Linked DNA regions of Homo sapiens: all the other regions are linked to region 2. The links come from fine-mapping of genetic effects on plasma protein levels. A gene starts in region 2. Each other region holds a variant in brackets. All regions are shown on one strand. Distances are from middle to middle.

Region 1 (5,237 bases), 28 kb after region 2:
TTGCTATAAGTGATGGAGATGGGGATGGAAAGAGAGAAGAGGCCAACCAGAGATGGGGCCTAGGTGATAGGACTATTCAGGGACTCTCTTTCCCAGTGCCTCCATGGTCTGGCTTGAAACTCCAAGGAAAGTGAGGCTCTAAATTCTAACCCGACCTTACAGGTCATTGTTATATCTTATTTATCAAAGTAGGAGGATAGAACACATGTGATCTAATAATTTGATTTATAACATTTGGTGCCCCTGACAAGAGTTCTGTTTCTGAAAAAGGAATAGTCTTTGTTATTTCCAAACAATGGGAAAAAAAAGATTACTTGAAGGTAGCAATTATTTTAATCATTTTAAAAACATAATGCTCTTATATCGCCTAGAATTTTTACAGTCATTAAAGTATATCTTTAATGTTTAGAGATTTTTTGTCATCATATATCATTCTTTAGCATATATAAAAGATAATATGTACCCAATACATTGTATTCTTTTTTTTGTTTTTTTGTTGTTTTTTGCGACGGAGTCTCGCTCTGTCGCCCAGGCTGGAGTGCAGTGGAGCAATCTCGGCTCACTGCAAGCTCTGCCTTCTGGGTTCACGCCATTCTCCTGCCTCAGCCTCCCAAGTAGCTGGGACTACAGGTGCCCGCCACCATGCCCGGCTAATTTTTTGTATTTTTTAGTAGAGACGGGGTTTCACAGTGTTAGCCAGGATGGTCTCTATCTCCTGACCTCGTGATCCGCCCGCCTCGGCCTCCCAAAGTGCTGGGATTACAGGCGTGAGCCACCGCCCCGGCCCCATTGCATTCTTAAAATGCTTTCACATGTAGATATCAGTTCTTCAGAAATACCTTTTTACTCAGAGTCATTGATGTTAGTATATTTTCCAGTAATTATCATCATCTCTGCCATTGAGAATGTTGGTGGTACAGCATTTCTCCAGAATGTTTCCTTATTGCCTCTGAAATTCTCTTCCAATGACATCCACTCTACATACTTTGATGCTAAGAGTCTCTTGATCTTATGAGCCAGTATCAAACGAAGGTTTTCGGATAACAATTAGGATTCATATTTCTTCCTCAAATTATTCTTAAAGGGTTTCCTGGCTGATCTTTTATGCTATCAGGAAAATAACCAAGTTCAGGCATATGCAGGCAATGGCAACTACATTTTACAAACCTAGTGGCTCAGCTACTAGAGATTACACAATGTCATTAATAGCCACCATTTATATTCAAGATCAACATTCTTACTGAAATCAAGAAAAAGAGGTCAAACTATTAAAGGTAAAACGTCGACCCTTTCATTGTTAGATTGCTTTAAGTAATCACTTATTTTTTCTGTTGTTCATTATTCAGTGAATTGCACTAGGTTTTACCTCTAAGAGATCTAGTAGACATTTTTTAAATTTAATATTGTATCCATCATTTTTTTTCAAATAAATTACACGATAAAATGTTCATGTTATATATACAAAGGAGTCACTGTTTAATCTTTGAAAACTGATTCTTGGCCAAGGGAAATGGTAAAATTAAAATAGAGCTGTGAATTATTTTTAAACCGCAGTAGTCCGTGTCATGTCACACATTTTTAAAAATTATAATTGCTTGTTTCTTTTTTAGAAGACTACACTTTAAAAATCGACCTTGCAGATTTTGAAAAAAATAGCCGTTATGCACAATATAAGAATTTCAAAGTTGGAGATGAAAAGGTACTACAATTTTCTAAGAAGTAAAACCGTGAATAAATGCTTAAAATGTGCAATATAACCCTGGAGTCAGTGGAAATAAAAATATACAATAGAACCTGTTCTTTTGTTTATGAAATAAACTTAATTTTAAAATGGTCATAGAGGAACTCCACTGACAGCAGAAATGCCCTTTTTCTTTAGAATTTCTACGAGTTGAATATTGGGGAATATTCTGGAACAGCTGGAGATTCCCTTGCGGGGAATTTTCATCCTGAGGTGCAGTGGTGGGCTAGTCACCAAAGAATGAAATTCAGCACGTGGGACAGAGATCATGACAACTATGAAGGGAACTGCGCAGAAGAAGATCAGTCTGGCT[G/T]GTGGTTTAACAGGTTTGATGTCTTATGAGCATAGTTGTAATGGAGTTGATGATATCTCACTGATAGACATTAATTATCAATATAATATGTATGGTAATGTTAGTCTTTATTTATAATATTAGTATTATTAAGTAATCATTCTCATTAGAATTCTTCAGCAATGAAGTCGTTTTGAGGATTTGTTCATTGTGTACATTAGTAAAGTGTAAATGTCATAGAAATAAATTATTACTTTTACAAAGATCATTTGCAAACTGAATTATGGATGAGTTATAAATAGAAGGCCACAAATTCACACAAAGAAAGAGAGAGCATGTATATATATGGAGACTATTTGGCATCCTAATAACCAACTAGTTCTTCACCTGACCATATCACACAAAAGAGCCACCGTTATTGCTGTAATGCTTCTGTATAGTACTACTTTTCAATCACTATGGCTTTCATTAATTCATTGAGTCTAAGCCTCTCCCAATACAGAAATTTCCTTTACAATAATCCAGAAACCTAATTCTACCCTCTGACTGAATACATTCATGTTACTTTATCAGCAAATTCATTCCGTTTTTGATTGTATATAGTTGCTTCTTTTTTTACTGATACAAAATATTTTATATATTTCTGGGGTACATGGGCTAATTTTTGCATTTTTGGTAGAGATGGGGTTTTGCCATGTTGCCCAGGCAGGTCTCGAACTCCTGGCCTCATGTGATCCACCTACCCCGGCCTCCCAAAGTGTTGGGCGTGAGCCACCGCACCCTGCCGAATTCATAAGTTTTAAATTGCATGTCATTCTGAGCAGAGATTCGCACCATTGGATTCTTTCTGCCCAGGAGGTGGGTCACCCCTCTGTCTAGCGTATCCACGCTGAAAGCCCTCCCTGCCCCAAGACACTTAGTAGAAGTCTGAGTTATCAGATCCAGTGTTGGAGTTTCATAGTGCTCGTGTTCGAATCATGCTTATTTGATTTAATAATGGTCCCAAAGCACAAGAGCTGTAATGCTGACATATTGTTATATAATCATAATCTTTTATTATTAGTTGTTGTTAATCTCTTACTGTGTCTAATTTATAAATTAACTTTGTCATAGGTATGTATATTATAGGAAAAAACAGAGAACTACTATAGATGGTTTTTTTCCTTCCTACACCCAAAAGATTTTTCCCCCTAGCGTTCTGAAATTTTACAGTGACATACACTGTCGTGGTCTTCTTTTGGTTTACTGCAGTGGGTACTCAGTGGTTCTTTTGAATCTATATCATGTCTTTCAGTTTGGTAAATTTTATTTTCTTTATCTGCTCGTTACTCACTTCGTAGCTGTTTCGGTTATCAGACTGAAAAAGCATAGTATCAATATATAGAATTTGGTATTATCTGTAGTTTCAGGCATCCACTAGGGGTCTTAGAACGTATCCCCTGCAGATAAGGGAGTACTACTGCTGTTGTAAAAATAGTCATCTTTTCTATATTTTGCTTTTTTAAAAAAACATTTGAGTCCATTTAAGATTTGATCATTTATAAAGGAACTGGAGTATTTCCAGCAGTGTGAAGGAGAGAAACAAATTTCACTCTCCTGCTTTGCAAATTGAAGGTGATGATGGTGTTTTCCTTAGTGGTTTTCCTGTTATTTTAAAAACCGTCTTCTTCACCTGTTCCTACTCCTTTCTTTCCCCCTTGTTCTTCTAAGTCAGCATGACATAAAACTTAACGTGTAATTCATGAAGTCATCTGCAAGCATCACCAATGTTTGATTTTGAAAACAATTCCATATACAGAAATAATTACTAATAGTATCCTGAGATCAAAACCATGTACTTTATCCAGCTGACTGGCTTCTAAGGCATCTGAATGAAAACTACCATGTATATTAATGTGGGCAAAGGAACGATTTACCTGACTTTAAAGAAATGGGTTCAGGGAGCACAAAGAAAGGCCATTCATTAGGTGGAGCCTGCCACAGAGCCCACATTATCCTTGGAATCAAAGGGGTTGATAAGGCTGTGCAATTGGAAAATCAGTAGGCATTAAGGGAGAGAAAGTAGATTGTTTTAGAAACTTGGTGCTACTTCTACCATGCCTACTATCAGTGAGTTCGACTATCATCTTTTCTTCCTTCTTACTGTTGCTTTTTTTCTGTCCCATAGTTCTTCTAATTTACATGAAATGTTGGCACTTCATAAATATTACCCACCTATAAAATGTTTTTTTCCACATAGCAAACCAATCACTGCGAGTTGATGTCTTTTCTTTGTTAGTGTAGCATTTCACGTGAGTGTTCACAGCCACTTCTTCACCAAGGAAGACCCAATCATCCCCTAACCTAGTTTCAAATCCAGGCTGTTCTAAAAACTAAACGATGCTAGAAAACTGGTCTCAGAATAGTGAAGGTTTCTTATGTTCATCACAGAGTCAGTTTCCTAATGGGATTCAAATGATAGACCAAATATAAAAATATAGTTAGCAGATGTCTCTAGATAGACAAATATATGCCAAAATATATATTCTGGAGACTCAATTTACAGTATTTTCTTTTTTTAACATTACTTTCCATGCTGTTTTAAAAACACAGTAGGCTTTGACATTTGCAGACTTGACATACATATTTTCAATTAATTACGTCCATTTAAGTTAGGAGGACTTCGAGAACGCTCAGTAGGAGTGAATCATTAAGCTGATAAGTGATTCAAGCCAGCCACTCAGCCTTTACGGGTAGATTATATGCTTTTTTGATTCAATAATTTGGGTTTTTCCATAGATGTTCAGAACTACCTCTTGTGAATGTTCTCCTTCTATCCTAATTCTGACATCTTTTCATTAATTTTATCAATAAAGAAGTATATGGCAATTAATTTCATAACAACACACATAAACTTATTGCATACTGTTACATGTAAATTATACATATCAAGGACAAAATTTACAGACTCCAAAGGAGGAAAGAAACATTTTTATATTGTCGATAACCTAACCAGCTTATCTAGATTGGTGCAATATATGTAAAAAATTAACTCAGCAACTAGGAAAAAATGATTATTGGTTGATGGGTGGCAAAACTTTAAATGGTGATTTAGGTTTGTTTGCTTACCCTTGAGATTGAAATAACTGATAGGCTAGCAATTTAAAGAAGGGGACATACGGAGTTTGAATTATGAAAGCTAAGTCTTAGCAGCAGAGGAATGAA
Region 2 (5,237 bases):
CCCAAGTTGACACATTACAAAGCACCTCAATTTTTCTTTTCTTCCTCTTTTTCTTTATCCACCTTTACCCTTATTTTTCTAGTTCATATTGTCAGAATCTTTCCCAGAAAGTGTGTGTGAAGGTGGAACTATTTATTGATCATCTATTAATGTAAACTTTCTGCTAGTTACATCAATAATGGGAATACTTAGGATAACTCACTAGTAAAACTGTTTTAGTTTTATTAATTTTAAAATGCTTCTCCATTGAAATTTCTGAGACCTACGTTATGTGCAAATAAACTTTCTAGTTTTTCAGGACTCTGCCTGAGATGACATTGAAACCAGCATTTCAGGAAGGAATTTGATTACCTCCACCTGAGGAAGCTCTGCTAGTTGTGTGGAACGAAGACTGTTCTTAACAACCCCTTTCCTTGATATCTACAATACGCTCCGTTCTAAATATTTTAATAAAGGGCACATTTGAAGTTTAAAATGTTATCATTGTAATCAGAGCATGGAGTTTTATAAGTCCCATAAAAGGGTGCCTCCTGAACTGGGAGTCAAGTTTGGAAAATATAACCATCAGAAATTTATGCTGGTAGAATACAGTCAAGGATATAAGATCATTTGTCTGAGTCTAGTTCCTCATGCAGCCTTAAGTAGACATGTTCCTCGCTGCAAGCTTGAGTGGACTGGAGGCGGCAAGATCTGGAATTAAACCTTCCCACGGTGACTGGGTCAAGTATCAAATAATGGACAGGTGTTCAATCTGGCAGGCACAATACAGGGTCCAGAGGGTTTGGATGAAAATTGTGCTGTAACTGATGTATTAATTGAAGAGTTCTCTGAAAAAGGTCTTCCAAAAGGAAAAGGAAAAAAGAATTGACAGTGTCCGTTTAATGTGTTTGAGAGCCTAATCAGCCTGATCTTGGTGGGACTGTACTTGTTGTCCTATTATATCATGCTTTTCTTGTACTTTTTTCAGCCAGTGATCTCAGGTCTCATTCTCATTTCATAGCTTTGGTGCAGTTGTGCAAGGTCACAACTCTTCTTTCTTGCTTTTTTTCTTTTTCTTTTTTTTTGACAGGGTCTTGCTCTGTCACCCAGGCTGCAGTGCAGTGGCGCGATCTCGGCTCACTGCAATCTCTGCCTCCTGGGTTCAAGTAATTCTCCTCCTCAGCCTCCTGTGTAGCTGGTACCACAGACGCCCACCACCACACCTGGATAATTTTTGTAGTTTTAGTAGAAACTAAAAATACATGGGGTTTTGCCATTTTGGCCAGGCTGGTCTCGAACTCCTGACCTCAGGTGATCCACCTGCCTCAGCCTCCCAAAGCGTTGGGATTACAGGCGTGAGCCACCGCACCTGGCCATAATTTTGACCTTTCCTGATGATAGTTCTTCCACCATGTTATGGCAGTACATCCATGGAATAATGTTACTCCAAGAAAATTTGGCTTTTGGAATTCCTCCACAAAGTATTGGCCCTAGAGTAGTCCTTACTGCCTGATTAACTTTTGCAAGTTTCTCCTGAGGTAATGATGCTAGCCAAGTTTCCGAAAGACAGCATAGTCTACCTTTAGTAGAAAAGAGGACAGATTCTGAGCAGGATTGCCTTTGAGCCCAGCTATACCTCTTGTTAGCTGTGTGACCTCGTGCAAGTCACTTAAACCTCTGTGTCTCAGTTTCGTCATTTGTGAAATGGAGATCATTAACAGTACCTACTTATAGGGCTGTGTGGCTGAGTGAGTTGATAAAATTACCATGTTTAGCACATGATAAGTATACCACATGTTAGCTGCTGTTAATGTTATGTCCCTCCAGTGAGGAAATGAACACAAGGCTAAATTATTGCTTGAATGGGGACAAAGCTAAAGGCATACAAGAAGGAAAGATAAGTTTGTATTTCAAAATATGTCATTTTACCACAGAGATCATTATTGAATTAGCCGAATAATCCCATATTTTTGCTTTTGAAATTTAACATTAGCAGCTTGAATTCTCTACAATTATGAATGTATAATTTCCACTTCTTCTGTGTGTGTGCAAATCACTTCAGTCTAACTGGCTTTTTTTTTCCTTCTTTTTTCCAGTAAATCAACAGGATTACCTTTCCCTTAATAATCTTCAAAATGTCCACGTGAAGGACAGGAAGATGTTTAATGGGAAGACCAAACATCGTCAGTGCTCAAGTCCAGTAGATAACAAAGAACAGAAAGAAAACAAAACTTTGGTATTTTACTGGAATCTGAGTGAATAAATAGGGACCACAGGACAAATGGCAAACAACTGCTTGAGTTACATCAGAAGGAAAGAAGAAATGATGAACCCAGATTTCCAGTAAGAAACTGTTACACAATACGATTAATGGAGCTAACAAGTGCCTATTACACATTAGAAAATCTTCTAGAGGATTTTAAAACAAAAGGAACAACTTGTCCAGAGTATAATCGATGCTTCCAGTTAAATTTCACAATTTTGCACCTCAGGGAATACTTTTGTTTTTCTTAGAGAGCAAATAAACTGACCATTTCACCTTGGCAATTATTAACCTGCCTTGTTTTTTATAACTAGGAAAAATTTGGCTTATCTCCATATTTTAGTTGAGATGACATATTAATTCATATTTTTGTGGGTAAAATGTTATTACCCTTAATACAAAGCAAAGTTTCAGCTGGACTTCGTTTTTACTTAATCTTCAATGGAACATTATTGAAGTTACAGTACAAAAATTCTCTGAATGAACATAATAATAAGTTGTAAAATATATATATCTTTATAAAGATATATTATTGGATCTTTCACAAAAAGTCATACAAGTGGGGAAAAAAGAAAAATATCAGAGTATTGGGATTTGTCCTTGAATCTTCTCTTTTAGCTTTCTTTCAGTTAAACCTGTGTCCACATGTTTGTTTCTGGATTGAAGCCAGAATCAACATTGTCCCTATTTCTAATCAAATAATGGAGAAATAATTACAAATTCCCAATGCAGTTACAGGATCCTGGGAAGCAGAGTGTCTGGATGGAACCTGAGCTGGGTCTCTGACTCACTTCTGACTTTAGGCAAGTTATTTAATGTCTCTGCATTTTTGACATGCTTGTAATAATGCTAATTTATTTCACAGGTATGATAGTAACCAAAACTCAGGTAACAACCATTAGCTTTTGCAAGAAGTCAGGTTGACTAGCAAGGAGTCTGCTTCTGCTACTTGGAGAAGAGATTTAGAATTATGTATCTTTTGTTACAGATATACAGATATACAAATATACAGATATACAAATAAGGTATGTTAGAATTACAAATGAGGAAAATGGAAAATTTTAGAGAACTTAAGATATTCTCAGGAATTATTCTAAAGCTAATCAAAGTAATATAATGACTTTCTAAATATGTATAATTACATTTTGAAATGCTTTATTGTTTATATGCTACCAGACTAGGGGGTGCCTTTTTGATTATTGGATTATCTTAATGGTAATGAGATGAACATTTCAGGACATCAAGAGACAGAGGCCTGTCAAAAAAATTTCATTAGCCCTTTATTTTTTACTAAATCTAATGCTAAGCAATATTTATATACCTTATATAATGTATATATAATCTATAATATATACATAATTATGTATAATAATGTTACGTACATACATATACATATATATACAGTGTGCGCAGGTAAAATTATATGATATATAGGTGCATCACCCAGAGCATTTTCAAAACATACTTCCATTTATGCAAGAGCCAGAATCAAACATTGGAATAAGAAAATTTCTTTTTTAAGCTCTAGGCGTTTTTTGTTGTTGTCGTTTGTTTGTTGGTTTTTTGAGATGGAGTCTCACTTTGTATAATTTCCTTTACATTTTGAATGAATTGCATGGGAGTTTGACGTAAATGATAGGTTTACAGTTTCAGTATAAAAAATTAAAAATAAAATGGACTATATGACAATTTTCACTTCAGAAGTCAAAAAACTTCAGAAACATTTTTCTTTATTGCATTTCTTGAGGGATCAACTATATTTAGCTTTGTAAGGCTTTCAGTGAGTATGGATTCTTAAGAAAAATACAAAAGCACAGTTATATTCCATTTTCAGAAAGAGGAAAAAATTTGGAAGGAAATAGCTTAAAAGGAGTCTCTAAGCTTGTGTTTATGGGTACATTTTTAACTCACTGACTTAGGTTATAGTCCTAAGCATTATAGTCCTATAGCGTTTGTGAATGCTAACTTATTAAACATACTTCGTTCAATAACTTTTTCCTTCCTTTTTATTTCTTTTATATATCCTTTTACAATGCTTGCTTAAAACATACCAGTTTTGAAATGTTTGCATGCTACTAATGTACTTCTGTTTTGTAATTGTTTTTAAAAATTATATATTATTTTTAGAACTTTTCATTTACAAATTTAATGTCTTCATCTTTAAATTTAATGCAGCGTAATTAATTAAATTTTTTTTAAATATAGTGGGGAAGGAATTAGAATTTATAGCATTAAAATTATGTAAAATAATATAGTCCACCAAAGAACAGCCATTTGATAACAATTTTAATTTTATAATAATTAAAAGTTTTGATACTGCCTAAGGCAAAAATATTATAAAAGAAATACAACTAATTGTGCAATAAATGAACAGAATAATTTGATACAACTTTACTGTAAGCCAGATGTGCAGAAGAAATAATGGTTTACTATAATGAATGATGGAGACCAGAATTTCAAAGCAAGTTTCTTAATGCTTAGCATTTCTTCAATATTACAGAGAATGTTGGTTAGAATTGCAAAGGAGGAAAATGGAAAATTTTAGAGAACTTAAGATATTCTCAGGAATTATTCTAAAGCTAATCAAAGTAATATAATGACTTTCTAAATGTAAATAATTACATTTTGAAATGCTTTATTGTTTATATGCTACCAGACTAGGGGGTGCCTTTTTGATTATTGGATTATCTTAATGGTAGTGAGATAAACATTTCAGGACATCAAGAGACAGAGGCCTGTCAAAAAAATTTCATTAGCCCTTTATTTTTTACTAAATCTAATGCTAAGCAATATTTATATACCTTATATAATGTATATATAATATAATCTATAATATATACATATTATGTATAATAATGTTATGTTCATACATATACGTATATATACAGTGTGCGTAGGTAAAATTATATGATATATAGGTGCATCATTCAGAGCATTTTCAAAACATACTTCCATTTATGCAAGAGCCAGAATCAAACATTGGAATGAGAAAATT
Region 3 (5,237 bases), 21 kb after region 2:
ATTTTAAATTCTACATTTTTCATACTTTCTGCTGTTACGATTTAAGTCTCATTTCCCAAAGCAGGCTTCTTAACTTGTTAGCTATAAGCAAATTGAACTACTGGTGCTTTTTTGCTTTTTTAATGTTTATTTATTTGTTGGGGGTTTTGTTGTTGTGTTACTGTTTATTTCAGTTAAAAGCTTTTCTTAAGTTGTGTTTGGCATTTTCTTCTGGGGAGAAGGAAAATTTCAAAAACAAGACCAAAGAAATAACAAACTCGCAGTTAGCATAAAATAATAACAAGTAGAAAATTTTGGCTGAAACCTCTATATTCACTAAGTTTTCCAGAGGCAAATGTTATAGCTAATCACTTCCATATTTGCCTGGAAAATAGTTTGATCCTTGTGAGTCTTTAGTATTCAGCTCTTTGGTAGGAAATTTAATGTAAGCAAAAAGCTTCTTTCCAAATAGGGCTAAAATCTGCTTACTTTAATAAAAGTGTTGTACTATATACTTGACTACAAGATGTAAACTTTATAACAACATTGAACTAATTTTAGATAATCATTTTCTCATTGTTTTGCTTCTTGTTTAATTGCCAAAACAGGATCCTTTTTATAATTTAGCATGTATATGAACGCATGTGCTTCTGAATCTTGAAAATAAATATATGAATAAAGCCTAAATCATTACAAAGGTAAACATCTCACCAAAGCAGGAGTATATGGTTGGTCCCAACCATGTGAAGGCTTTATAAAATGACTAAGGTTCTTTCTTTTCTTTTCTCTTCTGATGTCTATGGCCTATTCACCTACTTAATGTGCAATATATTTTATCTGTAACAAAACAAGAGAGTTGTAAATTTGGCAATCTAGTATCAAAACAATGAACATTTGTTTTTAAATCTTTAAACATCTTTAAAATATGCTACAAGAATGGAATTATCCAATAAGAAAAAAATTTTTTGTTAAGGAAATTAACAAAGCGATAAGGGTAAAAGTGAAAGTTGATGATGTTATAGTATTTTTATTCAAATGTTTGTAGACGGCTCTTCTTGAGATTGTTTATAGTGACCACTACTTCAATCATCCTAAAACCTAGCTTTCTATGCATCTGAACAATAGAGAGGTCCCCATTTGCCACGTTCTCTAAGTCTGTACAGATCAACCTAGGTGAGACCCAATGGGTATTAATTTACATCACCCTCAAGTGGCTTAAGGAACAGACATCACCATTTGGCAGGGTGTGGTGGCTCACACCTGTCATCCTTTCACTTTGGAGGCCGAGGCGGGCGGATGGCCTGACCTCAGGAGTTTGAGACCAGTCTGGCCAACATGGCAAAATCCAGTCTGTACTAAAAATACAAAAAAATTAGCCAGGTGTGTAGGTGCGTGGCTGTGATCCCAGCTACTCAGGAGGCTGAGGCAGGAGAATCGCTTGAACCCGGGAGGCGGAGGTTGTAGTGAGCCGAAATAGCACCATTGCACTCCAGCCTGGGCGAAAGAGCAAGACTCTGTCTCAAAGGAAAAGAAAGAAAGAAAGAAAGAAAGAAAGAAAGAAAGAAAGAAAGAAAGAAAGAAAGAAAGAAAGAAAGAAAGAAAGAAAGAGAAAGAAAGAAAGAAAGAAAGAAAGAAAGAAAGAAAGAAAGAAAGAAAGAAAGAGATATCACTTTTTGGTGACAAAGGGGTAGCTACATTTGCTTCAGTGTTCAAAGAAATACCACAGCAAAAAAGAATTAAGGGATGAAAAGAATAGCAGAAGCTTGCAGTTTTTAGCAAAAACATCTAAGAATGTATGGACTTTTAGAAACTTCAGTGGGTTAGTAAAAAATCTAATAAGGCTAAGAGATTATAAGATTTTGACAAGATTATGGGTGCAGCACACCAACATGGCACACATATACATATGTAACAAACCTGCATGTTGTGCACATGTACCCTAGAACTTAAAGTATAATAATAAAGATTTTTACAAGATTACTATTTTGGGTTCATTTTCAGATGTCCAGAATGATTTATCATGCTCTAAGTCAGGATAACCTGTAGTAACTTTGGTGTTAACATTTCTGCTTTCATTTTAGCTTCATGGGTGAGATAAATTTTACTATTCCGTCTGATAAAACTGTAAGTTCCACCTAAATATACTGTTATTAACAGACTACTCATAACTTGTTTTTTTTAAGATTGTTTTCTACAAAACTCAGAAATTAGAAACTAAGCTCACACCTGTAATCCCAGCCCTTTGGGAGTCTGTGGTGGGAGGATAGGATTGTTTGAAGCCAGGAGTTCGAGACCAGCCTGGGCAATATAGTGACACGCCCCCATTTCTTAAAAAAAATGTAAAAGAAAAAAGAAGAAAGAAACAAAAAACTAGATTCTTATTTCACTCCCCTTTTTTCCTCGATGATTATATCAAGGATTCAGGTGGCAAATTTTAGCAAAGGAAATAAAACTTTCCTAATATCCACTGGAAGATGTACAAGATGCAATTTTAAAACGCTGATTTCTATACCATGTGTTATCTGTCTCCAGTGATACTGAGTAGTCTCATTCAGAGGCTCCCTAAGGCGGGGGGAGAAAAAGACACATAATGAATGTTACATTACCTTGTTTTAAAAACAGATTGTTCAGAGATTTTCAATGATGGGTATAAGCTCAGTGGATTTTACAAAATCAAACCTCTCCAGAGCCCAGCAGAATTTTCTGTTTATTGTGAC[A/G]TGTCCGATGGAGGAGGATGGACTGTAATTCAGAGACGATCTGATGGCAGTGAAAACTTTAACAGGTGTGCTAATTATGATGTAAGACTTTATATGTAGCAGCAAATGTGAGATTTATAAGTCAAATATTTTGATCATATCCTGAAGCCTATTAATTAGACAGAATTTCAATCTCTCTAAAGAAGAATACTGAAAATGAATTAACTAATCAAGAAAATATTGGAGGTGGTGGTAGCAGGGGGTGGGTGGTGGTCGCTTTGGTACCACAAATGGAGTTTGCTCTAATCGGCTTCCACTTTACCTTTTTTAGAGGATGGAAAGACTATGAAAATGGCTTTGGAAATTTTGTCCAAAAACATGGTGAATATTGGCTGGGCAATAAAAATCTTCACTTCTTGACCACTCAAGGTAAGGTTTGAATGATGTCAGATTTATTTGAAATATAATAAAAACAACACTAAAATTTTTTTTTAACCAAATTATAGGCAATGGAACTAATTCAATAATTGCTATGATTTGCAGATGGCAGTGATAACTTTTGGGCAATAATCCCAAATGTAAAATGTGGCTGCCTAAAATTAGAAACAGAAAAAAAAGCTAGAATTGGGTTGCGGGGAATTGTTTTCACATATATATTTATGAGAAATATCTAAATATATTTATAGATATATATACATTCTATACATAGTATATATGTAGCTATATATAGATATATAGAATATAAGTCGCTATATGTATCTATAGATATATATAGAATATATATATATTCTACTTCTGAAAAGGATATATAATGTCATAATTATTCCTTTTTGATGCCTTGAGTTCCTGGAGATTATATATGCTGTATCAGTTACCTAATGTCACAATAATAACGTGTAACAATCCTCTTCCAAAGCTTAGTGGCTTAAAATCAACAACCATTTATTACTTCTCACAAATCTGCAGGTTGGCTGGGTGATTTTGCTGATCAGGGCTGGGCTCTGCTGATCATGGCTGGGCTTGCTTATGAGTCTGCCATCAACTTCCTCACTGAAGTTGCTGCTCTGGGATGGAAGGATTCAACCTGGCTCCATAGGGTCTCTCATCTTCCAGCTAGCTAGCCTGGACTTGTTTTTGTAGCACAGGCAGGGTTCCACAAAAAAGAGTGGATGTATATAAGTCTCTTGAGATCTAGGCCCAGAATTGGCATGGAGTCATTTTTCTTCTATTGGTGAAAGCAAATCACAGGAGCAGCTCAGACTTTTTTTTAAAAGGAAGTAAACAATAGGAGGAGCTATGAAGACATATTATGAGAGAGAGGTGAACAATTGGGCAATTGGTGCTATTTTTCCAATAAAACACTATAATATATGAAATGTCCATGTTTCCACATACATCTCATCTTTAATGCTGAAATTTTTTCAAAGCTGCAACCAATTTGAAAGAAGTTTCAACCTACCACCTGTATCCTACATTAACATTTTACTTTGCTTGTTTTTGTTACGTATCTATCCGTTTGCCCATTACTCAATCCGTCCATCAATCCATCTTTTCTGTATATATATTTCAAAGTAAATAGCAGACATCTGGATGTCTCCCTATATACTTTTAAATTCTTATCTTTAGAGTTTAATATTTGTCTAAAATATCATTGTTTTGATAACGACTTTTCCCAGCTTCTATCTCCCATGTTCTTTTGCTCCAATCCATTGTCTTCCCTACCTCTGTTGTAGTCTGAGATTATCATCAGTCCCACTCAAGTCTGATCCTGAATCCTTCATAAAAGGCAACTGTAATGCCCAAAAAAGCATGCTAAGTTACACTGCAATTGCATTAAAAATAAACAGCTGGGCATGGTGGCTCATGCCTGTAATCCCAGCACTTTGGGATGCTGAGGTGGGTGGACCCCTTGGGGCCAGGATTTCGAGACCAGCCTGGCCAACATGGTGAAACCCCATCTCTACTAAAAATACAAAAATTAGCCAGGCATGGTGGCACAGCACTGTAATCCCAGCCACTTGGGAGGCTGAGGCAGGAGAATTGCTTGAACCCAAGAGGCGGAGGTTGCAGTGAGCCAAGATTGCGCCAATCCACTCCAGCCTGGGTGACAGAGCAAGACTCTGTCTCAAATAATAATAATAATAAAGTAATTAAGATAAAACAAAAGTTCCTTTGTTCCATCCAAGTTCTGGAAAGCTATTGGTGTTTCTATATTTATAGTAGTAGGCTTATGGTTATAAAGTTCTTTGAGACACTAGAATGATAAACATTAGACAGGATGAGTAATCCTAGAAACCTTATACTTTCTTTGTATGTCCTTCTTATGATCAGTGCTCTCTAAATTTACATAACGCTTCCTTTCCTTCAACATATCTATTATTCTAGTTTTAAGTGTTTTATGCCAGATATATAAAATTTGCCATACCAACTTCTGTTTCATTTGCACATTGATATTTATCTGGTTTCTTATTGAAACTATGAAAACCCCAGAGCAGTAACCCTTGGCTCTTTCTAAATATATGAAATTCAAACGTATTATTTTTTAAGTTATTATGATGTACA

Direction of the effects. Positions count from the first base shown, and alleles are read on the strand shown. Strength reflects both the effect of a copy and how common the allele is.
With allele G in place of T in region 1, the plasma level of the protein whose gene starts at base 2,968 in region 2 is higher (strong association).
In carriers of allele A in region 3, the plasma level of the protein whose gene starts at base 2,968 in region 2 tends to be higher than with G alone (weak association).

The links. PIP is the chance, under the fine-mapping model, that this variant and not a neighbour inherited with it causes the effect. Protein levels are from antibody-based Olink assays in UK Biobank. Linkage for the fine-mapping came from a reference panel and not from the study's own genotypes, which makes the PIPs less certain.
Region 1: its variant is fine-mapped to the plasma level of the FGL1 protein (UK Biobank, PIP above 0.99). The variant lies in the coding sequence of FGL1. If it changes the protein, the assay may bind it differently, which can mimic a change of level.
Region 3: its variant is fine-mapped to the plasma level of the FGL1 protein (UK Biobank, PIP 0.91). The variant lies in the coding sequence of FGL1. If it changes the protein, the assay may bind it differently, which can mimic a change of level.

The regions. Positions count from the first base shown.
Region 1 is chr8:17,865,378-17,870,614 of GRCh38, reverse strand. FGL1 (fibrinogen like 1) reads left to right here. Exons shown (of 8, transcript NM_004467.4): 6 at 1,611-1,699; 7 at 1,880-2,067. Among named protein-coding and RNA genes, the nearest start is that of FGL1, 28 kb to the left of the region's middle. The variant G/T (reference allele first, on the strand shown) is at 2,055.
Region 2 is chr8:17,893,255-17,898,491 of GRCh38, reverse strand. It overlaps FGL1 (fibrinogen like 1), which reads left to right and starts at 2,968. Exons shown (of 8, transcript NM_004467.4): 1 at 2,968-3,045.
Region 3 is chr8:17,871,886-17,877,122 of GRCh38, reverse strand. It overlaps FGL1 (fibrinogen like 1), which reads left to right. Exons shown (of 8, transcript NM_004467.4): 4 at 2,602-2,761; 5 at 3,007-3,104. Among named protein-coding and RNA genes, the nearest start is that of FGL1, 21 kb to the left of the region's middle. The variant A/G (reference allele first, on the strand shown) is at 2,697.